5 separate regions of the Homo sapiens genome follow, and regions 2, 3, 4 and 5 are each reported to be linked to region 1. Evidence: microRNA targets listed by miRTarBase, many of them from high-throughput screens and not tested one by one. Region 1 holds a microRNA gene; each other region holds the end of a gene's coding sequence. Distances are between the middles of the regions.
What was found. Region 1 holds the annotated microRNA hsa-miR-548aj-5p (UGCAAAAGUAAUUGCAGUUUUUG, at 3,960-3,982, opposite strand). A microRNA usually pairs through its seed, bases 2 to 8, with sites in the 3' UTR of a target mRNA and lowers its output. Matches are read on the target gene's strand: a 7mer-m8 pairs with bases 2 to 8, a 7mer-A1 pairs with bases 2 to 7 and ends in A, and an 8mer does both.

Region 1 (6,268 bases):
AGCATCTGCAGGCCCACCTGCTAATGTGGGAAGGAAGCCATTCAATGGCTATAAACCATTTGAGATCTCACTAATGAGGATGTCTGTCTGACTCTCCCAGGTTCTGTCCTCCTCTTCGACTCCTCCAGAACAATACCCCCATTGTTCAATGTAAATAACAATTGTAGAGCTTCAAGTACTAGTTCCTTCCAACTACAGTCATTCTGAAAGCTTTTGCTCTCTGCATTTCTTTCTCTTTTATGAAAGTTAACAACAAACAGGCAGATCACGGGCTGCAATCCACAGAGTAAATTAAAGCCATTCCATACTCAACAGTTTCCAGACATTTTTCATATCTGCAGACCAGGCCTACAAACTCAATTATTTTCATTCATTTCAACTTCTGTTCCAAAGCCCTGAGAATGGAATAAATTAGGCGGCTGATCTTTAAAGCACTATTTCTTTAGAGAATGCAATTCACAGGATAGACACCATTTCCTATGGAAAAACAGCTTCAGAAGTAGGGTAAGAGATACGCAACTGTGTTCAATGAGATTTCAACGGAGACAGGAATGTTGAACAAAAAGAAGCAGAGGCTCCAACTCAATAAAGCACCTTGAACATTCCAGGGTCTTTGATCTTAAAAAATGAAGCTTTGGAATACCACTGTAACAGTCTTCTGGAATATTTCCAGTTTTGTTGTTTCCTGAGAGAAAGGAATCTCAAAAACATGTGGACATGCAGAAATCTCATCATGTTTTTTGATTTCATCTCCCGGTCCCATACCTTTTCAGATGCACTCATGCTAACCCTCTGAGATACATTGCTACAAAGGATGTATACATTTGTGTGGAACAGAAAATCTCCAAATCAATTTGAAGACAAGTGCCAAAACAAAAATGAGTGTTTAACCTGGGCTCTCTGAGTCAGGGGGCATTGAATAGTGAGATACAAGAAAGGTTGAAAAAGAAAAAGAAAAAAATGCCAGAGCTTCTGATGAATGGTGGAGAAAGTGCTTCAAGCAATTCTCAAAATTAAAAATCAACTTTGGTTCCCACCTAAAGCCAGAGATATCAATACAACCCTTTCCACAATACCAGAAATAAGTGGATATATTATGACACGATGAAGCTTAAGCTCTGCCCTCCCAGGACAACTCTGTTCCTCATTTTATATTTGTAGTTTTCAGTTATTTTTCTTATATAATCCTCCCTCAATTGTTTAAGATTTAGGGTCTTTAAAATATGTATTCATTTCTTCACCACACATTTGCAGAAGCATTCCTGCATTGCTTTTTTGTTTTGTTTTGTTTTTTAACAAATATAACCAAACACAAAGAGCAACAAAACACTTCAAGCTGGTTACCCAGTGACTATGCTTGAAATCCTTCAAAGGCTTCCTATGATACTTTGAATAAAATCCAGACTCCTTACTGTATTCTGCAGAACCCTCCATGATCCAGCAATTTCTTCCTCAATCCCAAATCATTCTGTTCTCCCTCTAACCCATATTCTGATCACACCAGCCTCCTTGCAGCACCTCTGCATTGCCAATCTCTTTCCTACCTCAAATCCTTTGGTCGTTGTTTCTGCTATTGCACCCTTCTTCCCCTTTTCACATTGCTGGCTCCATCCTCTTTGGGGGCTTCTGGCCCTACCTGATTACTCTAAATAAATAATCATGCTCTCTATCTCCTCACTCCCACTCGGGGTTCTCTATTATACCCCCATGTTCTACTTTTTTTTTTTCTTAGTAACTGTCCATCTCCACTGCAATCCTGCAAGCTCCATCAAGGCGGCAGTGGTGTTTGTTTTGTTCATCACTACAGAGGATCCAGCTCCTAGTCAGTGCCTGATGTGTAGTGCCCGCTCCATCAAACTGTGTGCAGGCCGGGCGCGGTGGCTCACGCCTGTAATCCCAGCACTTTGGGAGGCCGAGGCAGGGGGATCACAAGGTCAGGAGATCGAGACCATCCTAACTAACACGGTGAAACCCCGTCTCTACTTAAAAAAAACTAGAAAAATTAGCCGGGCGTGGTGGCGGGCGCCTGTAGTCCCAGCTACTAGAGACGCTGAGGCAGGAGAATGGCGTGAACCCGAGGGGTGGAGCTTGCGGTGAGCCGAATCGCGCCACTGCACTCCAACCTGGGCGACAGAGTGAGACTCCGTCTCAAAAAAAAAGAAAACAAACAAACAAACAAAAAACTGTGCAAAGAATGGTGAATGAGTCCTGCAATCAATTAATTTCCCAGTAATTGAACATAACTCTTTAAAGCACAGAAACTAATAAGAACATCAACAATAACAATTTCGGGGCCGGGCGCGGTGGCTCACGCCTGTAGTCCCAGCACTTTGGGAGGCCGAGGCGGGCGGATCACGAGGTCAGGAGATCGAGACCATCCCGGCTAAAACGGTGAAACCCCGTCTCTACTAAAAATACAAAAAATTAGCCGGGCGTAGTGGCGGGCGCCTGTGGTCCCAGCTACTTGGGAGGCTGAGGCAGGAGAATGGCGTGAACCCGGGAGGCGGAGCTTGCAGTGAGCCGAGATGGTGCCACTGCACTCCAGCCTGGGCGACAGAGCGAGACTCCGTCTCAAAAAAAAAAAAAAAAAAAAAAAAACAATTTCGGTGGAAATCTTCCCATGTCTTTTAAAATTGACAACTTGAATGTAATATAACATTTTCCTGGCAATTCTTTGCTTATTACAGGTTGGTGACTGTGCCCTGGGTGGTAGAGTTTGCCAGATAAGCCATCCCTGAATCAGTGAAGTGTGATTGAACAATTAAATGACTAAAATGGTATAGCCTCCATACCCATTTGCATTCTTTGCACTTCTAGTCTAAAAAGGGCAAGACAAATGCAATTGTGTTGTGGAGAAATATTTGGATTCTTTTGGAGAGAAAAGGAAAATCAAAGAAAAATATTATGCATGGTATGAATTGGGAGTTTATAATTCAGAAATTTACTAAAAATAATGACAAGAACCGAAAGTGAAAAAAGTAGCTTTATTTTTAGATATCTCTCACATGTGAGAGAATAACCTGATATTGGCCAATAACCAAATTAATTATTTGTTTCTCCATGAAGACTCCTTTCTGAATTAGAAGGAGAAAGAGGTGAATTGAAGAGCAGATTGAAAATGGAGATATAAAATCAATGACTCTTTTTTAAGGATGAGTCATCATGGCTTTTCTAGATGATTGATTGTGAAGTGGAAGAAATAGAACGAATTAAACTATAAGCATTTGAGCCCAGTAGTTCTCTGGGGCACTCTTCTCCACTATTTGAACTATCTTTATTTCATAAGCTAAGACTAAAAACATTGCCAAAGTGAACTGGTTCTCCAGAGTTTCTAGAGTGCATTATTATCATTCTCTAAAATGAAAATACATCTGATACTTCAAAAGACACATTGTTATGTTTTTTAATGTTTTGCTTATATTTCATCTCATTTTGAAAATGATTGAAGTAGCTTATAATAAATACACATAAACAATAAGCAAGTAAATAATTGCAATTGGAAACTAATTCTAAGTGAAAGACAATTATATCTAAGCTAATATCAAGAATGGACAATGACATTACATTTAACTCTGAGCTTTCTAGATGCCAAAATAAGGGCCAGTGATGAATTATGCATTGTTTATCTGAACAAAAGAATTATTTATTTAAGAGTTACACATCTTCTAAGACATATTTATGCATTTATTGCATGGATCCTTTTACAAATGCATTTAGACAACATAATAGACAACCACAAACAACTCCTGTCCAAATGTTTATAGGTTCACTAATGCATACCTACATATTAGTAAATAATTTATTTATGCACAAGTATGCTATGTGTGCATACATGTATATTTCTGAGTTACAGCATGTAATCTATATACACACATGTACATAACCATACATACAGATATACATATATGAAGTATTATGTTGGTACAAAAGTAATTACAGTTTTGCCATAGAACGTAATGCAAAAACTGCAATTACTTTTGCACTAATCTAATAACTCAGAGAAAGTGTTTCTCTAAAGGGGTAATGAAGTTGTGTAGATTGCTGGCAATGATGGCCCCAATTCTTTTCATCCCTGCGTGCTAACACTTGGTAATGTGATTTTGTCACTCCCTTGTCAAGTGGTAGAGTATAGTTCTCTTCCCCTTGCATCTGAGCTGTCTCTGTGGCCAGCTTTGGCCAATAGAAATGACTTTGTATGGCTTCCTAGCCTGGGCTTCAAGAGGCCTTGCAGCTTCTGCTCTCACACTCTAGTCCAGGCTAGCCCTCTTATGGATAAAAGCACATGCTAGCCCTCTTGAGGATAACAACCACCCTCAGAGAGAAGCCCAGCTGATGGTCAGCACCACCTGCCAGACAGTTGAAGAAAGCTTCTTTAGGCCATCTCACTCCAGTCGAGATACCAGATAACTACAGCTGCATGAGTGATCCCAGGAGAAGCCAGCAGAAGAACTGCCCAGCTGCAAACAACTCAAACTGGTAACCACCAGAATCATAAGCTAAATAAATTATTGTTTTAAGCCATTGAGCTTTAGGGTGGTTTTTATATAGCAACTGTTGATATAAGATTCAAGGTATAAAATTTCCTTATTTAATAACAGAAAAAAAGTGGAGTAATCTAGGGAACTATGGTTGCTCACATCACATTTCCCTAAGTTCTTTAAGGAGTTCTGAGAAAAGGGAGATGAAGAATTTACTTAGCTACATGTTTTTACCCCTTGGGTAGAATAAGTGTAAACTTACTTTTTTTTACAATACTTGCTCTTCTGACTTTTAAAAAGATAGATTTTAGTTAAAGGAAAGAATTCCTAGCAACAGCCCACATATTTTCTATTTCCTATTGCAGTCAATATGTTCCTAACTTTTTGGCCTGAATTTTCCAGGATAGTCCTGAGTTGTCATCATCAATCTATGCATTATTAGGCCTAATCTTCTGATTTGGAGTTGGAACAATATAGAAGCTATGGTTTGGCTGTGTCCCCACTCAAATCTCATCTTGAATTCCCACGTGTTGTGGAAGGGACCCAGTAGGAGGTCATTGAATCATGGGGGCAGGTCTTTCCTGTGCTGTTCTCAAGACAGTGAATAAGTCTCACAGATCTGATGGTTTTATAAGGGGGATTTTCTCTGCACAAGTTCTCTGTCTTTGCCTGCTGCCATTCATGCATGATGTGACTTGTTCCTCCTTGCCTTCCACCATGACTGTGAGGCATCCCCAGCCATGTGGAACTGTAAGTCCATTAAACCCTTTCTCCTATATAAATTACCCAGTCTCTGGTATGTATCAGCAGCATAAAAACTAACTAATACAGATGCTATATCTATATATTTTGAATACCAAAAGTATAATTGGCAAGTTAGGCATTTTCTTAAGGCATTTTCAAAGCCTGATCTGTATTCTCGCCAGATGGACAACACCCCCCAACTTTTCACAAAAGCATGTTATTCTTTTAATGCATGCAGATCAACAAAGCATGCACATTGAAGGACGTGCTGTCACTGGTATTGAAGATAAGACTCACGTGGACTGTGGCAAAAATAGAAATGGGAGACCAAAAAATATGTCTAATCTATTAGTCCAACCTAGTGATGATGGTGACTTGAACTAGAGTGTTGGCAATGGAACTGGGGAGAAGGGATGACTTCAAGGTTTTCTTTGAAATAAAAATGACAGGCCTCACAGAGAAAAGAAACGAGTAACCACTAATTCTGCTCTGAACAATTAAGTGGGTGGTAAAGGCACAAGGTGTGTGTGTGTGTGTGTGTGTGTGTGTGTGTGTGTGTGTGTGTGTGTAGGCAGGTTAAGTTTGAGATGCTTGTGAGACATCCAAGTATACATGTCAAGTATATAGTTAGATAGATGGGCCTGGAATGCAGATGAAAAATTAAAATGGGAATATTAAGTGTAGTGGGCAAAGGGGCTAGCAGAGGATAGTGAAGTTAAAGAAATCAAGTGTCAAATCAGTTAGAGCTTTATAGGATCCATAGTAAGAGCTTTGGATTAATTCCAGTGGCTTTGGAAACTATGGGAATTTTTTTAATAGGGATGTAAAAAATCTGAGTTACATTATAAAAATTACTTTGGCTGCAGTGAGAAGTAATGTGTGGAAAGCCAAGTTATTATAAACTAGACATGATGGTGGCCTGAGGTAGTATGTTAACAGTGAAGACAGTGAGCAGTGGCTGGGTTGGGGACATGACTTGAAGGAAGAACCAGCAAGACTTGCTGACAGATAGATGTCCTGCAGAGAATATTCTTGAGCAAATGAGC
Region 2 (6,268 bases), not on the chromosome of region 1:
GCCAGATCCTAGGGCTTCCGGTGCCAGCCAGGTGACCTGCTGTTGGTCTGGAGTAAGATTCCTGTGAGTGACCCAGGCAGCAATGGTGAGCACCCCCCAGTGAGGGGTTATCCTCTGAGCCCCCCCGATGGAGCCAGCAGGGCCTACCAGACAGTGGCCCCTCAAGGTAGGGACTGGCCTCCATCTCTAGCGACAGCCCTAGACCAGGGCCAGGTCAAGAGCAACACTCAGGCCTTGTTTGCCAAAAGGCCTGGTTCCCATCCCTCCCCTCAGTCCTGGCCACAGGCGTCTCAGGAGCTCTGCTGGCTTGGGGGCTGCGTCTTGGGATAACCCCCACATTTGTAAAGTACTTTAAATTTTCAACTTCAACTCAACATCTATTGAGCATCTTATGTCAAGACCCATAATCTATACTAGGGATAAAAATGAGTAAAATAGATTCCCATATCAAGGGCTGGGTAGGGGAGCCGTGATGTCTTTACATAATGGTAAAGACATGGCTGATTCCTCTTACGGTGGGTGCCCTCACACTGAGCCAGATTCCAGGACATGGTTCCTCACAGCAGCAGGCAGGAGGAGCATTCTCCTGGCCTGGGCACCCATGCAGAGCGGCCGTGGTGATGGTCAGTTCTCCCATGTTGTGTTCGTCCCACCTCCCAGGCCCTCCTTTCCTGAGTGCTGGGCTGAGCACTGGTGGGGGCTGTGTTTAAGTGGGAGGCCCGAGCTTGGGGCTCTGGGAGGTCACTGTGACACAGACCCTGTCTGCAGGCAAGCAGGCTCTCCTGATGCTCTCAGGAGCCCCGCACCTGTGGGGAATGAGTCAAAGGTGGCCTTGCAGCCACAGGGGATGAGAGAAAGGCTGGGCACCTGCTAGGACTCCCTCACAGCCATGTTGAACCCACTCTGTGTACCCTGTCAGGCTGTGCGGGAGTGGGAGCGAAGTGAGGAGAGGGGCAGGTGGGAGAGCCGACCCTAAGTGGAGGACAGGCCCGCTCCTCCGGGGCCCTGGGCCTGAGACACCAACCTCAATATCCGGTCTAGGACGCAGTGTGGAGGGGCTTGCTTTCTCCAACCCTTTCTGACCTGGCATCTTACCCCAGGTAAATACTGGGGCTGCATGCAGCGCCTGGCCTCCTGTCCAGACTCCTGGGTGCCTAGAGTGCCAGGGGCTGACAAAGAAGAAGTGGAGGCAGTGACCGCACTGGCGTCCCTCTCTGTGGGCATCCTGGCTGAAGATAGGTAATGCCAGACCCCTGGCCCTGGGCCCACAGCCTCTCCACCGCTTCATTCCTCCCTGCTTGAAGACCCCGGGTCCGCTATGCAGCCACCCCAACCCTCCCAGGCTTCCTGACCAGGGTTGAGAGGAAGCTTAGCTAAGGCCCTTGCTGCAGCCCTGGTGCTCCAGCATCCCACCCTTGTCCCTCCCCACAGGCCCTCGGAGCAGCTGGTGGAGGAGGAAGAACCTATGAATCTCTAAGGCTCTGGAACCATCTGCCCGCCCACCATGCCCTTGGGACCTGGTTCTCTTCTAACCCCTGGCAATAGCCCCCATTCCTGGGTCTTTAGAGATCCTGTGGGCAAGTAGTTGGAACCAGAGAACAGCCTGCCTGCTTTGACAGTTATCCCAGGGAGCGTGAGAAAATCCCTGGGTCTAGAATGGGAACTGGAGAGGACCCTGAGAGGAGACGGGCTGGGCGGCGACCCCCACAGGGCTCTCGAGAACAGATTCTCCCCTCCAGTATGGGCCCTGGCTGTGGCCCCCATTCCTCAGGACTGCACAGAGGAGGACTGGCTCCGGCTCCGTCGGGCTCACCCTTAACCACTATTCCTGGCTCTGCAAACCCCAGACTTTGCACACAGCCTCAGGCTCCACACAGAAATGTGAACTTGGCCTCAGACAGGCTGGCCCTTCCTAGGCTCTAGGGGCTAGGGGGGAGTGGGGAGCCAAGAGGTCCCATATTCCTGAGTGCAGGGGTAGTCCCTCTCACCTGCTTCCTCAGACGACTCTGGAAGCTTCCCTCTACCACTGGGCACTGAGACGAAGCTCCCTGACAGCCGAGACTGGCAGCCCTCCATCTGGTCCGTACCCTCGCCAGAGGCCCCCCTACATCAACCTCCTGGCGATGCCCTGGTGGAGCAGATGGGTGCTCTGGGAGTCCTGTGCTTCCTGATCCAATGGTGCCAAACCCTTCATCTCCCCAAGAAGCGCAGCATACCCCTGGGACCCCTCGGCCACTGCCCACTCGGGGAGCCTTCTCTGTTTCTGGGGCCTCCCCCACCATAGCTCTGATTCCCACCCCACATAGGAGTAGCCTGACTGAGGGGGAAGGGGTGGGAGAGAAGATACAGACATGGAGGAGGGGAGGCTGCTCTGGCAAAGTCTTCAAGGCTTTTGGGGGTCCAGGCCTGGGGTCAAGAAGGAAAATGTGTGTGAGCATGTGTGTGAGTGAGGCGTGTGTGTGAGCGTGTGTGTGAGTGAGGCGTGTGTGTGTGTCTTTCCTAGGACCCACCATACCCTGTGTATGTATGCATGTTTTTGTAAAAAGGAAGAAAATGGAAAAAAATCTGAACAATAAATGTTTTATTTGCTTTAAAAGTGCCTCTGAAAGGGCCCCCCAGAAGTGAGCAGTGCGCCGTCAAGCGGGTGTGCAGGGCACACAGCTGCACGGCACAGTGTGGGTCTGAGTCACTGCCGGAGGAGGGACCAGGGTGGTCTGGGCCGCAGCCCCTTTAACAATCTGCCCTTCCTGCCCTGCAGGAAGAACCCATTCTGAACACACCCTGGCTGTCCCTGGCTGCCCCACTTTGGGGTGACAAAGAGGAGGCAGCCCTGGGCTGAGTCCACAGAGACCAGCCCTGATATGGCAGGAGTGGGGGTGGGGTGGGGGAGTGGGAATACAGGAGCTCAGCCCCAGCTCACCACGGCATCCCCGAAGAGTTGTGACTCAGACACACCTGGGTTTAAGTCCCAGCTGGGAGCTCAGGTAAGTCAAATCGTCTTCTGGGGCCTCTGTTTATCAGTAGAAGGCTCCAGAAGTATACACTGTTGATGGCTCCTTCCCGCTCTGATGCACCATGCCTGATTAAGCATACACTGAGCCTAGAAGAGAGAAGGGGTGAGGCACAGGCCTGGACAAGCTCACCCAGCCTAAGCAGAGAGGAAGGCGCCAGGCTGGCAGCACCTGCCTTTGTGGTTCTGAGTCTGTCCGGTTTTTCCAGCAGGAAGAGGAGCACCTCATTACCTTAGACCTGGCCCAAGCTCCTGGCAGCCTGGCAGAGTGTGAGGGAAGAGGCGCTAATCCCTTTCCCATCTGGCCTGGCCTCTCGGGTGTGGACACCAAATCCCGCAGGGGTTGCTGTAGCTATGCCCGTGGGCATCCTTGCCCTGGCTGGGGTGTGCTAGAGAGAGGAAAGCTGGAGGAGGAGAGCTGAGCTGGTGGTTACCCCATGCCAGGAGGGCCAAGGCAAGAGGGCCTGCAGCCCCAGAGATACTGACTCTGTCCCCTGCCCTCCAGGGCACAACTGAACTAGCGGAATGGCTTAATCAGATAGCTCGAGAACTGCCACTACCACTCCCTCCCTGCCCACTCCTCCCAAAGTCCACCTGTTCCCGCAAGAGTCCCACCTCACAAGCAACCACCAGAGGCTGATACAAATGGCCGCTGTATTTTTGCTAAAGTGACAGTGACACAGATAAGGCAAAGAGCTGAGGGGCAGGACACATCAGATGGGAAGGGGGAGACCGTGCAAAATGGCAGTCTAACAGAAAATCATCCTTGTACCAACAGCCCCTTCCCTCCCAAGTTAGGTGAGCCCTTGGGCCAGTGTATGGGCAGAAAAGCAGATTTGTGTCCTTCAGAAGGGAAATGTAAAAAGGTGAAAGCTCTAGTTGAAGGGCAGTGAGAGGGGCTGGAGTGGGAGAGAAGGTCTCTCCTGGCCGGTGGTCTGGGTGCAGCAAGGGCACTCTGAGAAGGCAGAATGGAAACGCAGGGCTGGAGGGGCATGGGTACAGGTTTGGGGGCTCTTTCCAGCCTCTACTATGTTGCCCCCTTCCCCAAAGCCCTTACAGGGGCAGAAGCACATTCCCCGTGACCCTGAGTCTGGCCTCATTTGGGAAGTCTTCTGGGGTGTATGGATGCCTGTGTGTGTGAGTGAGATGGGTGGGGGGCCACGGCTATCTGGCTCTAGCACACTCATGGGAGACCAGCTCTGGGAACAACAGGATGGGGTGCTGGGATGGGGGTTTAAGAGGTCTCTGCTAGATATTTCTGAACTGACCTCCCCAGGTGCCCAACCTGGCCTTGGGAAGAGAGTGCCTAGGGCAGCGGGGATGGAAACCCTTGCCTGCAGCATAGGTCCAGGCCTCATGGCCCTACACCTTGACCTCTTGACTTTGTTGCCCTGGCCTTAAGTACAAAGATTCCTCACTGCGTGCTAAGAAAACAGATCCAGGCCGGGCACGGTGGCTCACACCTATAATCCCAGCACTTTGGAAGGCTGAGGCGGGTGAATCACCTGAGATCAGGAGTTCGAGACCAGCCTGGCCAACATGGCAAAACCCTGTCTCTACTAAAAACACAAAAATTTGCCGGGCATGGTGGCAGATGCCTGTAATCCCAGCTACTTGAGAGGCCAAGGCAGGAGAATTGCTTGAACCTGGGAGGCGGAGGTTGCAGTGAGCTGAGATCGCACTACTGCACTCCAGCCTGGGTGACAGAGTAAGACTCCATCTCAAAAAAAAAAAAAAAAGAAAAAAAAAAGAAAGAAAAGAAAACAGATTCATTTGAAAAGGTCTAAAGCTGCCCTCTGGCCAGGCTGATGAGGAGCAACATGGCAGGATCCCCTCTCTACCACACTCAGGTTTCCTCGAAAGGGGACGGGCAGGACAGCTTCCTGGGAGACCACACTCGTCCTGCTGTGTATTTTCTGCCACAGTTCTGGGGTCACCAGGGGGTGGGAGTAGCCTCTCCCAACATCTCAGAGGCTGAGTCCAGGTCCTAAGGCCCCCCCAGGGTGCAGAGACCTCACCCCCTGGGTCAGAAATCGCTGAGGATGCTGATGTCAGCAAAGTCAGCCCGGTAGCGGTGGGCATAGAGGCTGAGCAGGAAGGCCCACTTGAAGGAAATGAAGCTCCAGACGCTGGAGAGGTAGTAGCTGGTGGGGTCTGTGAGGCCTGCAGGGAGAGAAGTACCGACAGTGACTTTGGCAGGCCCTGCCCTCGGCCTCTGCACCGGCCACAAGGCCAGGGCCACCCTCCCCACTCAACATCCCTGCAACGTCCTGGCAGCTGAACCAACCCTTCAGAAAGACACTGTGATGGAGGTTTTAGAGCCATGGTCCCCAACCTTTTTGGCACCAGGGACTGGTTTTGTGGAAGACAATTTTTCCACAAAAACCTTGGGATGGTTTGGGGATGAAACTGTTCCACCTCAGATCGTCAAACATTAGATCATCAGGGGCACGCAACCCTCGCATGCGCCTCACAACAGGGTTTGCGCTTCTAATGCCCGCCGCTGACCTGACAGGAGGCAGAGCTCAGGCGGTAAGGCTCGCTTGCCCCTCACCTGCTGTGTGGCCTGGTTCCTAACAGGCCACGGACCACTACTGTTCCACAGCCTGGAACAGTAGAACGGAGCTGGGGACCGTTTTAGAGTATTCCAGGGTTTTCAGGCAGGAGGCCGTGGGGATTAGGGAAGGGCAGGGCTGGCCAATCACAGGTCTGTATCATCCACTCCGCTTTTGTGACAAATACCCTAGGCCACCTCCAACCTGCTTTAGTTAGCATCAGACTCCCGGAAGAAGGACCTCTGGTTATTTCCAGCCACAGCCACCAGAGGGCGCTCCCATCCCAGAGCTGAGCACAGACTAATGGGTCCCAATATCAGGAGTGCTTGTATGGGCTATGCACTGCTCAAGACTTCACATCAGTTTCATAGAATCCACCCAACTTGCGAGGTGGGGACTTGTTTTCTCCACATGAACCATAACAAAACCCGTGTCCGGGGAGGTTAAGTAATTCACCCAGTCTCTTTGGAGGTAACCTGTGGAACCAGGATGGGAATGCTGCTAAAATCCCCGCTGCTGTCCCTCCCATGCCCTCTTTCCCTGGGACCCGCCCTCACTCTGATGCCGGGTGATGGCCAGCACGAGGAAGGTGCAGAAGGCAGCGATGGAGACGGCCGAGAAGAGGACGCCCACGAAGAAGAAGCCGCGCAGCCCCTTGAGCCAGGTCCTCCAATAATCTTGCATGTACATCACGTGCGTCACC
Region 3 (6,268 bases), not on the chromosome of region 1:
CACTGCACTCCAGCCTAGGTGACAGAGTGAGACTCCGTCTCAAAAATGAACAAACAAAACAAGACACCAGGAGCCTGGAATTGCGTGGCACTACCCAGTAATAAAATGTTAGATTAATAATGCTATTTCTCTGTATTTTCACTGTTTGTTTTTTTTTACACTTTAACGTGAACATCTGACTTTTTCACATTGAACACATATTACTTTTTTTTTGAGACAGAGTTTCACTCTTGTTGCCCAGGCTGGAGTGCAATGGCACAATCTCAGTTCACCCACAACCTCCGCCTCCCAGGTTCAAGCGACTCTCCTGCCTCAGCCTCCCAAGTAGCTGGGATTACAGGCATCCACCCTCATGCCTGGCAAAATGAAAAAGATTTAAAAGTAATATGTGTTCAGGCCACCGCGCCCGGCAAAATGAAAAAATTTAAAAATAATATGTGTTCAGGCCGTGCACAGTGGCTCACGCCTGTAATACCAGCACTTTGGGAGGACGAGGCGGGCGCATCACCAGAGGTCAGGAGTTCGAGCCCAGCCTGACCAACACGGAGAAACCCGGTCTCTACTAAAAATACAAAATTAGCCAGATGTGGTGGCGGGCGCTTATAATCCCAGCTACTCGGGAGGCTGAGGCAGGAGAATCGCTTGAACCCGGGAGGTGGAGTTTGCAGTGAGCCAAGATTAGGTCATCGCACTCCAGCCTGGGCAACAAGAGGGAAATTCTGTCTCAAAAAAAAAAATTGTTTTCATTTTTATCAAAGTCAAATATACATGTAATGTATGGAAGCAAATGGTTCTACAAGACTTATTTATTTTTGTTTTTATTTTTTATTTACATTTCTCTGCCAGAAATCTTGGACTTACAAAGCTTATTTAAAAAGTAGTCTGTTGTCAGAAAAGATGGTAGCCTAGTCTTGGTATTCCTGTGGAGAACTTAGAAAACCTGAAGAGTACTTGTACCCAAATTGGATTGTGTTTTAATGGACAATGGCTATATTTTCCCCATGTCAAAAGAATACCAATGAAAGCAGCTGTTTTTCAAGTTCCTAGGGGTCCAGTTGTCCAGAATCCCCAAGGATAAGATGCTCCCTATAAGAGCAGAACCTTAACCTCACTCAGTGACATCGTAGGAACCTCTAGCTGTGGAATTTCTTAGGAACTCAAACTTTCAAAAGCATCCAGAGAGTCAAAGCTGGGGGAAAAAAAGCACATAAAAATAACAAAATTTTTAGGCCAGGCGCAGTGGCTCACGCCTTAATCTCAGCACTTTGGAAGGCCAAAGCAGGTGGATCATGAGGTCAAGCATTCAAGACCAGCCTGGCCAACATAGTGAAACCCTGTCTCTACTAAAAATACAAAAAATTAGGTGGGCGTGGTGGTGGGTGCCTGTAATCCCAGCTACTTGGGAGGCTAAGGCAGGAGAATCGCTTGAACTCGGGAGGCGGAGGTTGCAGTGAGCCAAGATCGCGCCACTGCACTCCAGCCTGGGTGACAGAGCAAGACTCCGTCTCAAAAAAATAAATAAATAAATAACAACAATAATAAAATTTTTTATTATTTTTAATTTAATTAATTTATTTAGAGATGGAATTTCGCTCTTGTTGCCCAGGCTGGACTGCAATGGCACAATCTCGGCTCACTGCAACCTCTGCCTCCCAGGTTCAAGCAATTCTTCTGCCTCAGCCTTCCTGAGTAGCTGGGATTACAGGCATGCGCCACCACACCCGGCCAATTTTGTATTTTTAGTAGAGACGGGGTTTCTCCATGTTGATCAGGCTGGTCTTGAACTCCTGACCTCAGGTGATCCGCCCGCCTCGTCCTCCCAAAGTGCTGGGATTACAGGCATGAGCCATGGCACCCAGCCATAAAATTTATTTTTTATATTCTACTAATAAATGCTGTTGTACTTGGGCATGATCAATCATATAACTGTCATTTTTTGGTTTTATGCTGTTTTGGTTTGGTTTTTGCCAACTATATTCACATTTACAAACTAACTAAATAAAATCATTTTATTTAAAAAAAAAAGTAGTCCCGAACCCTTCCACCCTTCATTTTCCACTCCCAAGATGTAACCTTTTCATCTTTTAGCCATTAATAACTTGCTTATACTGCAATTTCTTGGTTTTAAAAATTTGACATTTACTGACTTCCCACTATAAGGAAGATTAATTCAGTTTTTGCATACCTGTGACAGTCGGACCCTCAGGGTTGTCCTGTGGCCCCCCACCTCCTGAGGTTCATATCTATGTAGTAAGGAATTTAACCTAACCCAAAGAAAAGTCTCACCTTTGCCCTTGGCTTCTGAAAGGTAATGGCTGAATTCTTGGAATGTGCCAGAAAGTATAACAATGTGATTTATGGTGGGGTCTTTGGGTCATGGTATCAGCTTATACTGTTTGCCTTCCAGAGGAGCTGGAGACTGAGGTTAGACATATGTCCAGCCAACCATGAGCTGCAGTAAGAACTCTGGACATGGCTCAGGTGAGCTTCCCTGGCTGGCAATATTCTGCGTGTATTGGCACACATTGATGCCAAGAGAATAACATGTCCATGACTCCACCAAAAGACAACAGAAAGTGCTGTGTTTGCTACTCTCTTAAACTCTGCCTTACGCACTTCTTCCTTTGGCTGATTTAAACTTGCATGCTTACTATATAATAAACTGCAACCATGAGCATAGTGGTTTTAGTGAGTTCTGTGAGTCTTTCATCAAACCTCAGGGTGGTTTTAGGAATCCCTTGAAATTGCAATTGTTGACAGAAATGAGGGTGGTCTTATGGGAACTGTTTTCCCCCTAACTGTATCGCTGGCATCTGAGACAACAAGAACACCCTTGAGTGATTCCTCTCCTCTTGGGTATGAGAGGGACCTTTGACTTGCTTCCAATCAATAGAATACAGTACAGGCAACGGACTGTACATAATTATGTGTATGTAATTGTGTTAAACAAGTTTGTAGCACTCCTCTTGCTGGAGTACCTCCCTTGCTGGCTTTGAAGAATCGAGCTACTGTTGTGGGCTGCCTATGTTGGGAGGCTCACATGGTAAGGAACTGAAGACAGCTTCTAGGAACTGAGGGCAACCTCTGGCTGACAGCAAGAAACTGAAGCCCTCAGTCCTACAAATGTAAAGGAACTAAATTCTGCCAACAAAAATGGTTCCTTCTCCAGTCAAGCCTCAGATGAGGCTACAGCGCTGGCTGACGTCTTAATTATAGCCTTGAGAGACTCTGAGCAGAGCCACACCCAGAATTTTGGCCCACTGAAAATGTGAGATAATAAATATGTGTTGTTTTAAGCCTCTAAGGTTGTGGTTAATTGTTACACAGGAAACTAATGTAATCTCCCTACCACTGTCACCATACAGGAACTAAGCCTATTGTCCTATCCTAACCACAGAGTGGGTAATCATAATTTCTTTCTTTCTTTTCACATTAAAAAAGTTTTTTTTTAATTTTTTTTTTTTTTTTGAGATGGAGTCTCGCTCTGTCACCAGGCTGGAGTGCAGCGGCACTGTCTTGGCTCACTGCAACCTCTGCCTCCTGGGTTCAAGCGATTCTCCTGCCTCAGCCTCCCAAGTAGCTGGGATTACAGGCACGTACCACCATACTCATCTAATTTTTGTATTTTTAGTAGAGATGAGGTTTCACCATGTTGGCCAGGCTGGTCTTGAACTCCTGACCTCATGATCTGCCCGCCTTGGCCTCCCAAAGTGCTGGAATTACAGGGGTGAGCCACCGCCCCTGGTTTTTAATTTTTTTAAAGTCGACAACAGTCCATAACTTCAATAAGATTAATAGTCAATGGTTACATTACTATGACTTTGTCAATACTTAAACAGCTGAGCAATATTCTTATATCAGACTTTTCTTTCATGCATTCATTTTTCTTATGGAGTTAAAAATTGCTTAGATTGGCTGGGCACAGTGCTCACATCTGTAATCTTAGCACTTTGGGAGGCTGAGATGGGTGTATCACCTGAGGTCAGGAGTTTGAGACCAGCTTGACCAACATGGTGAAACTCTGTCTCTACTAAAAATACAAAAATAATTAGCCAGGCATGGTGGCGTGCAACTGTAGTCCCAGCTACTTGGGAGGCTGAGGCAGGAGAATTGCTTGAACCGGGAGGAGGAGGGTGCAGTGAGCCAAGATCGTGCCACTGCACTCCAGCCTGGGCGACAGAGTGAGACTGTCCCAAAAAAAAAAAAAATTGCTTAGATTATTTTATTTGCATAGTGGTTTATTTATCATTAATTGTCCCCAAAACTCTTCAAATGTCTAATGTTTCTCTTAGTATGTTCAAACATAGTAGGCTGTTAAACAAGATGTATAAAGCAAAAACCATAAAAAATTCAACTCCAATTTATTCTCAAAAGCTTGAATGAGAAAAGAAATCAACTCCATTAAAATTTAAAAATCTTTACAATAAACAAAACAATACAAAACAAAAAAACCTTGTTTACTAAAAGACACCAAAAAATGTGCAGACAACCCATATGGCAGAAGTTATTTGTTACACAGACAACGAATGAAAGATAAATACCCCAAATATATTAAGAACTTCCCAAAACAATGAGAAGAAAACTAACCCATAAGAAAATGTGCAAAATATATGAACAGGAAATATTTAACAAACAGCAGTTGCCTCTAGGCTGAATGCTACCTAAAATAAAAAAAGTGTTACTGAAAGTAAAAATAAATAGATAACAGAAAATAAGTTAGGTTTTACATTTAGTCACGTATATTAAAATAAAGTATCTTATGTTTTCTTTTAAGATTATGTATTTCAGCCAGGCGTGGTGGCTCACACCTGTAATCCCAGCACTTTGGGAGGCCAAGGCGGGCGGATCACAAGGTAAGGAGATCGAGACCATCCTGGCTAACATGGTGAAACCCCATCTTTACTAAAAATACAAAAAATTAGCCGGATGTGGTGGCGGGCACCTGTAGTCCCAGCTACTCGGAAGGCTGAGGCAGGAGAATGGCATGAACCCAGGAAGCAGAGCTTGCAGTGAGCCAAGATCATGCCACTGGACTCCAGCCTGGGCGACAGAGCGAGACTCCATCTAAAAAAAAAAAAAAAAAATTATGTATTTCCTGGCCAGGCACGGCGGAGAGCTGTTTTTCAGTAAGAACTTGATGAATTTAATTAAGGCAATATGTACTTTATCTTTTTTTATTCCAACCTAAAAATGTCATTTATTTATTTATTTGCCTGCATGATAAAGCAAACATGGTAATGTTTTTAGATTTCAAATACTACTTTTGCTTCTTATTCCTTGACTAATCTTTTTCCTAGGATAGTCAATCCTTTATACTGATTAGAGTTTATTACAACAAACTGAAAACTGAATAATTATTTACATTCATTTTAGTCAATTATTGCTGTGACAAATTTCAAACATTCCAATTATTACAGTCACTAATTTTTGTTATTTTGTTGCTTTTCTAAAAAATTATTTTAATAATTTCCTAATTTATTTTTCTTATTTATTTATTTATTTTTTGAGAGGAAGTCTTGCTCTGTCACCCAGGATGGAGTGCAGTGGTGCCATCTTGACTCACTGCAACCTCCACCTCCTGGGTTCAAGTGATTCTCATGTCTAAGCCTCCCGAGTAGCTGGGATTACAGGCATGCATCACCATGCCCGGCTAATTTTTATATTTTTAGTAGAGATGGAGTTTCACCATGTTGGTCAGGCTGGTCTCAAACTCCTGACCTCAAGTGATCCGCCTGCCTCGGCCTCCAAAGAGCTGGGATTACAGGTGTGAGCCACAGCGTCTGGCCCCTTTTCAAATTTTTCTTGTATTCTCCAGGATTTAGGGTGACTCTAGTTCTTAGATCTTTCTAAAAATACAATCTCAAAATTCATCAAAAACTGGAAACTCATTGTTTCTTTCATATTCAATTTGCTTTGTCAGAAATTCCTTACTTCTTTTGTCAATTAAGTTGCTAGAGAATAGATTGAATTCAGGAATAAAATAATTCTCAAGTTTTTCTGTCCTGAGGCACTGAAGAAAGTATGTCACGCAGTTATCAAAGCAGAGGCCCAGGTCTTTGCGGTCCCACTGACTGTCTTGAGGGTTCTGGGTACATACGTGAAAGAAGGCAGTTTTCACATGATAAGAAGAGAATTTATCCAGATGTTTTTTGTCTTTAAACCTTTCTTTCAGCTGTTCTAAAAGGTATTTCATTAGTTTTAAACAATCTTTCCTGTTGAATAAAAAAGGAAAACACTTATTTTTACTTATTTACATTCAACAAAGGAT
Region 4 (5,000 bases), 39 Mb from region 1:
ATACATCATCCTACTCTATCCTTGGCTGCAGGGATTTTGCTGAGCAATCCACTGAGAGTCTTATGGATAATTAGCCTTTTCCCTTAACAAAAACTGATTATTTGACCCTCATACAAAGGGAAGAACTGATAAGAATATGAAATATCTTAGCCAGGCATGGTGGCACACACCTGTAGTCCTAGGTACTTAGGAGGCTGAGGTGGGAGGATCACTTCAGCCTGCAGTGAGCCGTGATCATGCCACTGCACCCTAGCCTGGGCAACAGAGTGAGACCCTGTCTCAAAAAAAATAAATAAAATAATATAAAAGTATATCATTTCAATGATGATAATACCAAATTATTTACTAATGAACAAATACCCTACTTAAATGAATTTGGTTTCTAAAAACAGTGCAGCAAAACCGAAGTAGATTTGAGGGTGCCACATTATTTGGTGTTCCCCTTGTTTCACTACTGTTATTTCACCAGAACTCATACTCTGGTGGCACAAGCCACAGTCACTGAGGCAGCAGACAGAAAACAATGACAGGTTTGCCTGTATCATCACCTCTGTAGCCTAAAGGGTCAAATAATCACCTTCCATCAAACTCACTTAATTCTTCATTTGCCCAACATATTTACTGATGCCTGCTCTGCATAAGGCATCCACTCTTGGTAAGTTATCAGATATAGTCAGTCCCTGACATCCTCATGGAGTGGAGATGAGAGAGAGGATAGAAACAGAAGGTTTAAATAAACAAGGTAGTTGCAGTTAGTGATGAGGGCTCTGGAGGAAATTGGGTGATGAGATTAGGGAGTTCTCAGGAAAGGCCACTTTGGATGTCATGGTGGGTGACCTCTCTGAGGAGATGCTGTCTGAGCTGTGACTTCAGGAAGAAGAGTAGGCTGTGGAAAAAGCTGGCAGGGGGTCCCTCCACAGGCAAAATATGGTTCAAGTATGAAAAAGCTCTTTTTCCTGAGCTGGGAAGTGTGAGACCAGCACTCAATACTTGGCCACAGCAGGCTCATGTGGGCCCATCTCCTCTCAACTCAACTCATGCTGGGCTTCTACAGGGAATATAAGACACCTGGGTGGTGATGCAGTCCTCTAAGGAACTTCACTCCATGGGGAAAGTTTTAAAGAATTACCCTTGTTTCTAAGGACCATGCTTACATTCTATTGTGGACATCTGTCTTTGGAGGCCTATTTTCTTTTCTTTTTACATTAACTTGACATCTGGTAAAACAAAATTTTGCATAGCAATTAAATCAAAACAAAAAACAGACATGACACTTTCTCAGTTAAAATAGTTTAATAAAAGCAACAAAACTGTGCTAACGATGAGAATCAAAAATGAGATATTAGGTAGACTTATAAAACAAAGTATAGTTATTTTTTGATTTCAAATAAACCATGTGCAAAATTGTAAAATGCCAATGTGTCTGAGAAAAGCATTAACAGTCCTTTTAGCAATTTATATATAAAGATGTTTTTAAAGTGCCACAGCTTAAGGCATTATATTTTAAAGTTTAATAAACATCTAATTTCAACATCTCTCCAAGAACAGACTTCTTCTCAATAAGCTATAAACTATTTGGTTAGGAATATTGAAAATGCATGTATAATTTAAGGAGTAATATACTTGTTAATGCTGAGTTATTAGTGCAATTCAAAAGCATATGAATTCCATATCAAGAACAAACTCTCCCGCCCAAGGTACAGTGTAATCCACACTGTATCATCTCATCTAAAAATCTATACAGCAGCTACCCCATCCACTCAGTTCCTCTGCAGTTAGGCTATTAGCTTTTCTTTTTCAAAAAGCAAAAATTCCTAAGACACCTAAAGATTAGCCTGTATTTCATTTATCTATACGGAAAGTGCTTAGTAATATTTCTAAAAAGGAAAAGAGCAGTATGGTAGATAAAGAATGTAGAGTCAAAAATCAATCATTTTAAAATTTTTCTTCTTCCTATGATTATGTTTTGGTTAAGCAGATATTATTTTCATTTTTTGAGCTTGCAAAAGTCTGCCTAGGAATGTGCTAAATCAAAGGAAAAATCTAGCCTCATGTTCACAATTGCCCTGGAATGCCATTCCCAGACTGAGATCTAACTACACAGAGTATGGCTAACGGCAGAAGTCAGAGGTTAGGGAGATCTGGTGTCTCCATTTATCTGGAAAACAGAGCAAAGAAGGGTGATCAGTTATAGAAGGCCAAACAGAAGTGTTTTAAGTTCAGAATTTCATCTTTCGTTTAATTTTCAAAGTAACAGCCACTCTGGATCTTTTCTTGCCCTCTTCTCTATCAGTATGAACAGCGTAGCTGCTTCTCTCCTTTAGGAAAGTCAGTGTGAGGTCCCTGGATATGGCCTAGTCTCCAGGTGGTGGGAGTTTACATTCTGTTACCTATAAACAGCTAAGGCATCGTTCTAAGTTTGTTTAAAATGGTTGTTTTAAATGGTAAACACAAAAGTCCAGTGATTTTTTTAAAAACTGGCTTTAATGGACATTAACAAATAATATACACTGATTTATCACCTTTAAGCAACAAAAACATGACTTGTAATTATTCAAATAAGGTAGGATTTTTCTCTTAAGTACACTTCTTAAAAGTCATTCACAAGACAACTGGGCATCCACTAAGACCAAGGCACTGTGAGGGAGGCAAACAGCACAACATCCTCACCTCAAGGAGCTCAGCCTGGGATGAAGACAGACACACACAACTCCAGCATGAGGCCAAGGGGTAGCCTGTTATGGGATCAAGTGGTGGCAGAATCAAGAAGTGGTTCTGAAAGTGTTCTTTAGTCACAGAGACCAGTAGGTTTGAAACCCAGTGATGTTACTTTTTAACTTTGTGCCTTACCTACTATAAGCCTCAGCTTCATCCACTACAGTATGCCACCCTCTTAATAGAATTTATGTAAGAATTACAGAAACATACAAGTAAAGGATTAAGTGTAGAGCCAGCATGAGGAAAGGTTCAGGAATGTGGTTGCTCATATGACTGCTATGCTTACTTCTGTACATGGAGCACTGTGGGAGAATAAAAGAAAGGGGTGGTCATTCCTTAGAGCATGTTCTCACTGGGGGAAATCCTGGCATCTTGAGCAGGACAATTCTTCACTGTATAGGACTACCTTGACATTTAGCATCCTGGTCCCATGGCAGCAGAAGGCCAGTAGCACCCCCATCATTATGATAACCAAGAATCATACCCACACATTTCCAAACTCCCTCTGAAGGGGTTACCACCCCTGCTGAAAACTGCTTTTCCAGAGGGACCATCTACATTTAGAAACAATTTAGTTCTCTTAATAAAAAGAGAGTGAATTCTTTGAGAGTATATTCAAGGATCAGATGCATTGGGCCTGGTGGCAGGGACGCTAGGACAGGAATGTTCAGTATAGTTTGAAAGCAGAATCCTTTCCTGATGAGTCCCAGTATCAAAATCCCCATGCTCACCATTCAGGCCTTAAGTAAAAAGGTAGAGCTGCATCTTTGCAAATAACTCAGTAGAAAGGAATTCTGCCAAGAAGCTACTAAAGAAGTAGCAAGGCTCACTGTTCCTGTAGTTGTAGTAGAAGTTAGACATATAAATTTAGATAATAATCCTACAAGGGATTTTTTAAAATTATAATTTCTTTTTTCCTCAATATACACGACAGAGTCCACTTCATCCCACATCTACAAAAAGTAAAAACTAAAATCATAAACAAAAAGATAGTGACAGAACAAGCCCAAAGAAGCTGGCATAGAATCTGTGCTGAGAAAAGTTCTCCCCCAGTATAACCTAAATCCACACCCATCTCTGACAAAGCATTCCAGGCTGAACACCACTTTCATGTTGTCATAGGTCTTTAAAAGCCAGCTGATAGATCTTCTTCTCCTGAAGTTCTTCTCCAGAACTTAACAGCATTTTAGAGATATCAGAAAAGATGTAAGGCATTTGACCATCATTAGTGCTGAGAGGTAGAGAGAAGCCAAGTTTTATTACTCTCATTTTACATATGGGATGTCTGAGGCACTAAGAAATGAGAAGATTGGCCCATCGGTGGAAGCCACTGCAAGTAAAATCCAGATATCCCGTTTCATAGGTACTTTGTTTTCTATCCCCCAAATCACAGACCTGCATTACTAAAATGGCTGAAGTATCCTGCTGAGGAATCCTCCAAGATGAAACCTCCCAGTGTGCTCTACCCTCCTTCCGACCTCTGAGCCCAGCTTGGATCCACTGAGTTGCTGGATTCACTGTCCTTTGCAGTAGGAAGAATCTGCTTAGAAGGATATGTATTTATATATCTTTTTACCATCTCTTCTTGGAGATGCTCTTCATCTCCTTGAAATAGTTATATTAAATGGATGTGGGGCTAAAGTTAGACCAAATCTTCCAGTCAGGAGGGGCTTCTTAGAATCCTCAGGTAAAGCAAATGCGAAACTCTGCATTAGGCTCACAAACATTAGGAATAATTCCATCTTTGCCAGTTGTTCTCCCATACACACCCGCTTCCCTAAAAATGAGATCAGAAAAAAATGAAGGATTATAATACCATCCCTTCTCCTATTTCAAAAAGTACAAATTTATATGAAATATCTAAATTGAGTATTCTAAATGCAGATGGAGTTTTTAAGTCAAATTGCCATATATACCACATAGCCTCCCACAGCATATGCTGATCAGAATTTTTACATATCAAATCCACATTTTAACTCTTACTCATAAAAACCTATCCCCATTCTAGACAGGAACTAGAGACAGATCCAGTGTGGCAGCTATCCTGTCTCTTCTGTGCCTACTTACCTCTTTCCTCCACTTTTGCCTGGAAGATTAAGGCAAAAAAATTCAGATAAGAATCCCTAGAGCCTCCCTTTTTCCACAGAAAGAATTCTATGTTCCTAATCTAGGAACCTAAAAGAGGAACTGTTGAGATTAGAGAACCCATCCTCTCACCCACCAGACCAGATCAGAAATTGCTCTTAAGTAGCTCCCTGGGACCCCCCAAAATTACCTGATCA
Region 5 (6,268 bases), not on the chromosome of region 1:
TGAAGTATCATTGAAAGATGAAGGGAAGATATCAATATTTTTATAGTAGGAGGGCTGGCCAAAGATGTTTTAAATTCATTGTGTACATGTGCCTGTTTCTTAGTAAAATGCAGGTCATATCTGTTTAAATTTTTCACAATTTCTTTAAAAATAGTGGTCAGTCAGTAGTCAGATGAGAGGGTGGCTGAACTGAATTTTGGCAGTTCTTGGTTAATTTAGAATTTCATGTGTTCGGACTTTTCCTGTATCCCTTTTCTGTTCATCCTAGTCAATGTCTTATCATTGCATACATTTTCTGGATGCTTGAGCCATCAGATATCAGCTAGCTTTTTAAAATCACCTTTAAGAAAGCAGTATTTTCTAATAGTAAATTTATAAACATCTTATACATCTTAGCTTTCATATATAGGATTACTATGTATTGATTTGTAAACATTCACTGAGTTTAATTTTATTTCCACAGGGCTCACAACAACATTAAACCAGGATGCTTATGTTCTTAAGTCTATATTTGCATATACATTGACTCTTGATGGAAAGACTTAAGAAGATCAAGGTCTCACCATTTGTCCTCAATTCGTGTGACCATAAGATACTGATAGCATTGAGTCTTGAAATGATTTAATAATATGAGTGAGGATTTGCTTTCTCCATTAGAGCATTAAGCTAAAACTATCAACATTTTAAACCAAATTGCCTTATTTTTCTTCCAAACTTCATATATGTCTATCAGGTAATAATAGGCTTGAAAATTGATATCCTGTGGTGCTAAAGTACAGTAGAAAGAGAGGAGAAGTGTATACATGTTTTATTTTAAATTGTACGAAAGGGGAATTTAAAAAATATGTAACTGCTGTTTATACATTGGCTCCTTACTGCTTATTAATCTGTATTGTACACATGATGAAATGAAGCAGAAGCTGGGAGTCGGCCTTTCCTCTAGTAACCACCACATGGCTCAGCATCTGTGCCAAACATAGGCGCTCCTAGTCTGGTCAGTGCCAAGAGGCTACCAGAACATGGGGCAGGTGGCTGGTGTTGGTGTCCCAGCCTAAGAGCCACCTGCTGCAGTTACCATGGCATGCTGAGTTGATGCACCAGGTGGCAGCAGCCATCCGTTATTATTTCCAATGGAGACCTAGCCCAGGCCAAGGTAAAGTTAGTTAATAGCATTGGGATATAGTCACTGTAATGGTGCTATTAACAAACAGTCAACACCATTGTATTTTTTAACTTCGTGTTCTGTATCTCCTCAGCCATGTATCTTAAATATATTTTGTCATCATAATCTTTATGGTGGGGGCAGACTTTGCACTTACTGCAGTGCAACACTTGCACTTTAATTTTCCTCCAACTGTCTAAAATTAGAGCAAATACATTGGCAATACAGCTGCTTTTGCTCTGAGCTACAATCATGGCTTTTCATGTTACTTACCAAGTGGTGTTTCTGGTTAGGAATCACAGCTGTAAAATTGATTTCAGTTCATCACACTTCTTCATGATGTTGCCCCTAAATTTTGCACACTATATTCTTGTATATTATTTCAAATAAATGGAAAAAAAAGTTGCTTATCTCTGACGTCTACTGATTGATTGATTGATTGATTAATCTTGGCTGAATTTTATTTATGAGTTCTCAGAATAACAGGTTCAGGAGATGAGATGGAAAACATAAGGCAAATTCCTAACACTGCTAATTAGGAGGCTGCTGATAGGATTTTAAAAATTAAAAACAATGTTAATAGTGGAACAAGAGCCATCAGAAAATAAGGACTTAGATTATCTACTATTTATAGAGAATTGCTATACAATAAAAATTTTTATTTTTCACGTGGCATTTTTGTTACACGGTTAAACAGCCCAAAGGTCTGCTTTTAATAACATGACAAAGTGTAACAAAAGCCTTGCTTTATTTAAAGATCCAGTATGACATACTTAAAAAGGCCATTTAACCTTGTATCTTAGCTTGGGATGTGCCAGTGGTTCCTCAACTTTGTTGTCTATTGGAATCATTTTGGGGATTTTTTTTTTTTTTAATAGTGGTGTCTGTCAGGCTCCCACTCCTAGACATGTTAATTAATGTGGAGTGCAAGTTGGGCATCAGGATTTTAAAAAAATCCCCTGGTGATTGGTATGAATGTGCAGCCAAATTTGGAAACCACTGAGCTACATGCTTATTTAGTGAAGAAGGCAGGGTTGGGGGAAGCAGGGTACATGTTATAACTTGATCATATCCCTTTAAAAGAAGTGGGGACTTTGGGTTTATGTACCCATAGGAGGACTTGGTTATGGATGGGAAAGACATTTTAGCCTTGTACAAAAATCTGAAAGAGGAAAACATCTTTCTGGAAAAATCAGGTCCATGGAATTGAAAGGTGGTGATAACTCAACATTTTTTATGCTAAAGTATAAGTGCTAAAGAGGTAAATAAACGTCGATAGGAAATACCGAACAATCAATTACATTCTTAAAATAGTAGATAGTAGCAGTCTTTTGGAGTATGTGTTTAACTGCCAACTATGAATGGGTTAGCACAAAGTGGAGATGAACAAAGATTTCATGTCATTACTGAAGAGCAGACATAGCCTTTTGAAGCAGCTGAACCATTATGGGATAAACTGGTGCAAATTCTTTGCCTTCTCTACTTCTCACTGATTGAACATAAGCTTCCAGGGCTCCCCTGAAAACCAAAATGAAAACAATGTCAAAATATTAGATAAATCACATAAAACAGTTAAGGGGATACCAATATATAAAAATTATTAGTAAGCTCATTTCTGGAACTGTTAATGCTCGGTTTCACAAGCCAAGTGACCAACAGCCTTCACTCAGTTACTGGTAGTGTTACTATGGTTACTACGGTTACTACGTTTAGTGTGAAAAACTATAACCATGTTTTCAGTCTGCATTGTTCTTAGTGGTCTAGTCATATACTCGGAGTCCTCTGGCTGTGTAAATATGTTCTCAATTTCCCTTTTCCCTGCTTCCCTACTGAAGACACCGGCAACGGAATGGGCATTTGTGCCTACTCCCAGAGCTCACGAGGGGCATCCTGCGCCTCTGAAAGGCACGCTCAAGAGTACAAGGGGATGGGGCCCTTTGGCACATTCGGTAACACCAGTAGATGCATTATATTCCTGTTATTTGATGAACTATGAACAACCAACAACTAGAATAAGTGCTCTTGGGCTGTAATGGCAAAATACATGATCGGGAAGCAGTCTGAATTTAATCAAGGGGATGTACCATTCCATTGTTTATGATTATGATCTCATGGATTAGGTTGGGGGTTAGCAAACTGCCTGCAGGCTGAATCTAGCCTGATGCTTGTTCATTTATATATTGTCTGTGGCTGCTTTCACACAATGGCAGAGTTGAATAGTTGAGGCAGAGACCATGTGGCCTGCAAAGTCTGAAATATATCTGGCCCTTCTTTTACAGAAAAAGTTCGTCAGTCCCTGAACCAGATCGTCTGTTTAAGTGGAGCTAAAAAGAATGGCTACGAGATTAATTTTTAATTATTGGTCTATTTAAGTACCAGGTACACAAATACATTTTTGTCATATTTTCTTCAAAATTTCAGTTTGAGATTGGAGCATTTGTATAAAGATGTAAGTTAATACCATTACTCAGCTCACATACGATAGCACTTAAGTGGTTTTCTTTTGCTCTCAAATACTGAAAATACTAATCTAATTGGGTTTGTTCAAGATTTTTCATTGAATTGTGGGGAAAACATTTCCCCAGAGTCTGGCTATCACTGATCAGTTTGTAGTGCCCTTCATCCCACAAGCCACTGTCATACGTAAAGGGATTTCAAATCTCTTAAGTTCCAGCCCTCGACCTCCCCCTCCTGATCTCTGCTTCTTCCTGTCCTCTGGACAGTTTTATCTGACTTGCTTCCAGGTAGCCTCAAACTCATTTGTCAAAAAATTGGGGCAGCGTTCTGCCCGCCTTCCCTTATTTCAACAAAGGGCACCATCAACTTAAGGTCTCTTAGTTCTTTTCCCCTCCTACACCGAAACAATTACCAAATCCTATTAATTTGCTACACACATTTCCACATCCAGTCCCTCCTCTCCCCTTCGCTTCACTTTGAACCCTTGCTATCTTGTGCCCTAATGATTGCTGTAGCCTCTTAAGGTGGTGAGCATCCTACTGCTGTTTCTCCCCTGTTCTGGTCAGTCTTCCATATTATAGCAAGAGATTTCCCCTGAAGTATTACAGCACTTGCCGTGCCCTGTTCTTTATAGGAAATCTGGAAAGGTCTGACTTCTGTATCAACAGCCTTGACTTAGCAGGATCCAGCATTGTGGAATTCCTGAAGGCTGGTTCCATGCTCTGGTCAGTGCCTAGACTCAACCCAACTGAATACCAGCTTCATCATCAAGCTGCTCCCAGCCCTTTCTGTGCTACTGCTGGGTTTTAGATAGCTTGATGTGGCCTAAAAAGACCCTCAAATCATTAGTTTCCATTTTTGTGTTACCAAGTAATGTGCAAAGCATATTTGCCCCATTTGTATGGCCCAACCTGGCTGCCCACCTAGGGAAAGATCAAGGGTGTTTGTTCATACATTGCTATGAAATAAAGCTGTCTCTGCCTAACAAAGTAGGGGGTGCCAAAGGGCCTGTTTATCTTTGGCCATACTGAATGTTTCAGTTAAAGAGCCACATTCTCTTAGCCCTTTGCACATTATCTTCCTTATCCTTAGAATACCCTTCCTTGCTTACTTTCTTGCGCAGCTCTTTATCTCTTAGGACTCGGCTTCAATGCTCCCTTTTAAGGAAAGCCTTTCTTAACTCCAGGCAGCAGGAAAGAATGGAAACCATCTTGGAGTCACACAGGTTTGTGAAACGATCTCACCTCTGTATCAACAGCCTTGACTTAGTAGGATCCGGCACTTTGGAATCCCTGAAGGCTGGCTCCATGCTCTGGTCAGGGCAGGAGTACTTTAAATCAGGTATGCAGGGGGATGGGCAAGCCCTTACTGAAGAAGTGTAGCTGTTTTTTTTTTTTTTTTATTTTTTTGAGACGGAGTCTTGCTCTGTCGCCCAGGCTGGAGTGCAGTGCCGCAATCTTGGCTCACTGCAAGCTCCGCCTCCTGGGTTCACGCCATTCTCCTGCCTCAGCCTCCCGAGTAGCTGGGACTACAGGCGCCCGCCATTGCACCCGGCTAATTTTTTTGTATTTTTAGTAGAGACGGGGTTTCACCGTGTTGGCCAGGATGGTCTCGATCTCTTGACCTCGTGATCCGCCCACCTGGGCTTCCCAAAGTGCTGGGATTACAGGCGTGAGCCAGAAGAAGTGTAGCTGTTTTAAATAACATGTAAGTTCATACCATTACTCAGCTCACATACCCAGTTTCAAGTCCCAGCTAACATACCACTCTCAACTGGCATGCAAGATGGAATTTAGTGCTCTTAGAGAACAATGTTTTGTGAGATGCCTTAGTTAAACCAGAGCTGACCCTGAATGGAGATATTTTTCTATGAAAAAAACTTGCTTCTTTTGGTAATATGCTTCTAGTTGGTATGCCATCCTGGGAAATTGTCTCCACTCCCCAAATGTAGTCCCTACAGAATCATATACAGTAAAGAAATCCCCAAGGGCTCATCTGTCTTTAAGACACCAAGGTGTATGTATCAGCGTATAAGAAGTGTTTAAATTCACAGGAACTACAATCATTTCATAGTGAATGGATTAGATATATTTGATGGACAAAAATCAACTTAGTTTCGTTGGCATTTAAAAGGATAAGACATCACGTAAGTTACACAACATGTAGAAGAGATCAGAAATGAGTTTGGTTAGATTTTTGGGTAGTCATCAAAAACACCATCAGAAGTATGGGGCAAAAAAGATTAAGCTGCCCTCCCACATGAAATTAGAGCAAGATTTTCGAGTACTTATTAAATTACTTCATTTGCTTAAGCAAAACATTAGCTTTCTTGGAAGTCAGGCCAAGTGTTATGTAACAGTTAGTCTTAACTCTGGTTTGTAACCAAAATAAGTAGATTATTGAGGTTATCCTTATTGAGAAAAAAAACACGATTAGTAGAGGAATGGTTTGTGGTAACATGGCAACACTGCTCAACATGACAAAAACTAGCCAAGTGGAAGTTTTCATGGAAAACAACATTGATTTTTGTCAGGCATTTAAATATTCAATGTGATTAGTAAGTACTGAAATGCATAAATGACTTAAAGATACACTACATGCCTCAATAAGCAGTTAAGCCCAGGCTTTTCCCTGGTTCCATCCTCCCTC

Region 2: miRTarBase lists SLC48A1 as a target of hsa-miR-548aj-5p. Seed matches in the 3' UTR shown: 7mer-A1 at 3,746-3,752.
Region 3: the mRNA of CGAS is a reported target of hsa-miR-548aj-5p. Seed matches in the 3' UTR shown: 7mer-A1 at 4,601-4,607.
Region 4: miRTarBase lists CYP2U1 as a target of hsa-miR-548aj-5p. Seed matches in the 3' UTR shown: 8mer at 2,002-2,009 and 7mer-A1 at 1,398-1,404.
Region 5: the mRNA of HBP1 is a reported target of hsa-miR-548aj-5p. Seed matches in the 3' UTR shown: 7mer-m8 at 1,394-1,400 and 7mer-A1 at 1,516-1,522.

What each region holds. Positions count from the first base shown.
Region 1 is chr4:147,340,722-147,346,989 of GRCh38, forward strand. It overlaps MIR548G (microRNA 548g), which reads right to left and starts at 3,996; the gene lies at 3,908-3,996.
Region 2 is chr12:47,779,050-47,785,317 of GRCh38, reverse strand. SLC48A1 (solute carrier family 48 member 1) reads right to left here. Exons shown (of 3, transcript NM_017842.3): 2 at 6,123-6,268; 3 at 2,567-5,173. The coding sequence ends at 5,037. It overlaps HDAC7 (histone deacetylase 7), which reads left to right. Exons shown (of 26, transcript NM_015401.5): 25 at 1,101-1,239; 26 at 1,432-2,596. The coding sequence ends at 1,477. Among named protein-coding and RNA genes, the nearest start is that of SLC48A1, 8.9 kb to the right of the region's middle. RefSeq lists a silencer at 5,733-5,782.
Region 3 is chr6:73,419,367-73,425,634 of GRCh38, forward strand. CGAS (cyclic GMP-AMP synthase) reads right to left here. Exons shown (of 5, transcript NM_138441.3): 5 at 4,345-6,212. The coding sequence ends at 5,861. Among named protein-coding and RNA genes, the nearest start is that of DDX43, 28 kb to the left of the region's middle. RefSeq lists a silencer at 2,220-2,514.
Region 4 is chr4:107,949,740-107,954,739 of GRCh38, reverse strand. CYP2U1 (cytochrome P450 family 2 subfamily U member 1) reads right to left here. Exons shown (of 5, transcript NM_183075.3): 5 at 1,279-4,495. The coding sequence ends at 4,317. The region is part of intron 1 of LOC107986298 (a long non-coding RNA gene); the gene reads left to right. Among named protein-coding and RNA genes, the nearest start is that of CYP2U1-AS1, 20 kb to the right of the region's middle.
Region 5 is chr7:107,200,951-107,207,218 of GRCh38, forward strand. It overlaps HBP1 (HMG-box transcription factor 1), which reads left to right. Exons shown (of 11, transcript NM_012257.4): 11 at 464-1,572. The coding sequence ends at 481. It overlaps COG5 (component of oligomeric golgi complex 5), which reads right to left. Exons shown (of 22, transcript NM_006348.5): 22 at 422-2,680. The coding sequence ends at 2,566. It overlaps LOC124901720 (a long non-coding RNA gene), which reads left to right and starts at 2,680. Exons shown (of 2, transcript XR_007060471.1): 1 at 2,680-3,541; 2 at 4,743-6,268.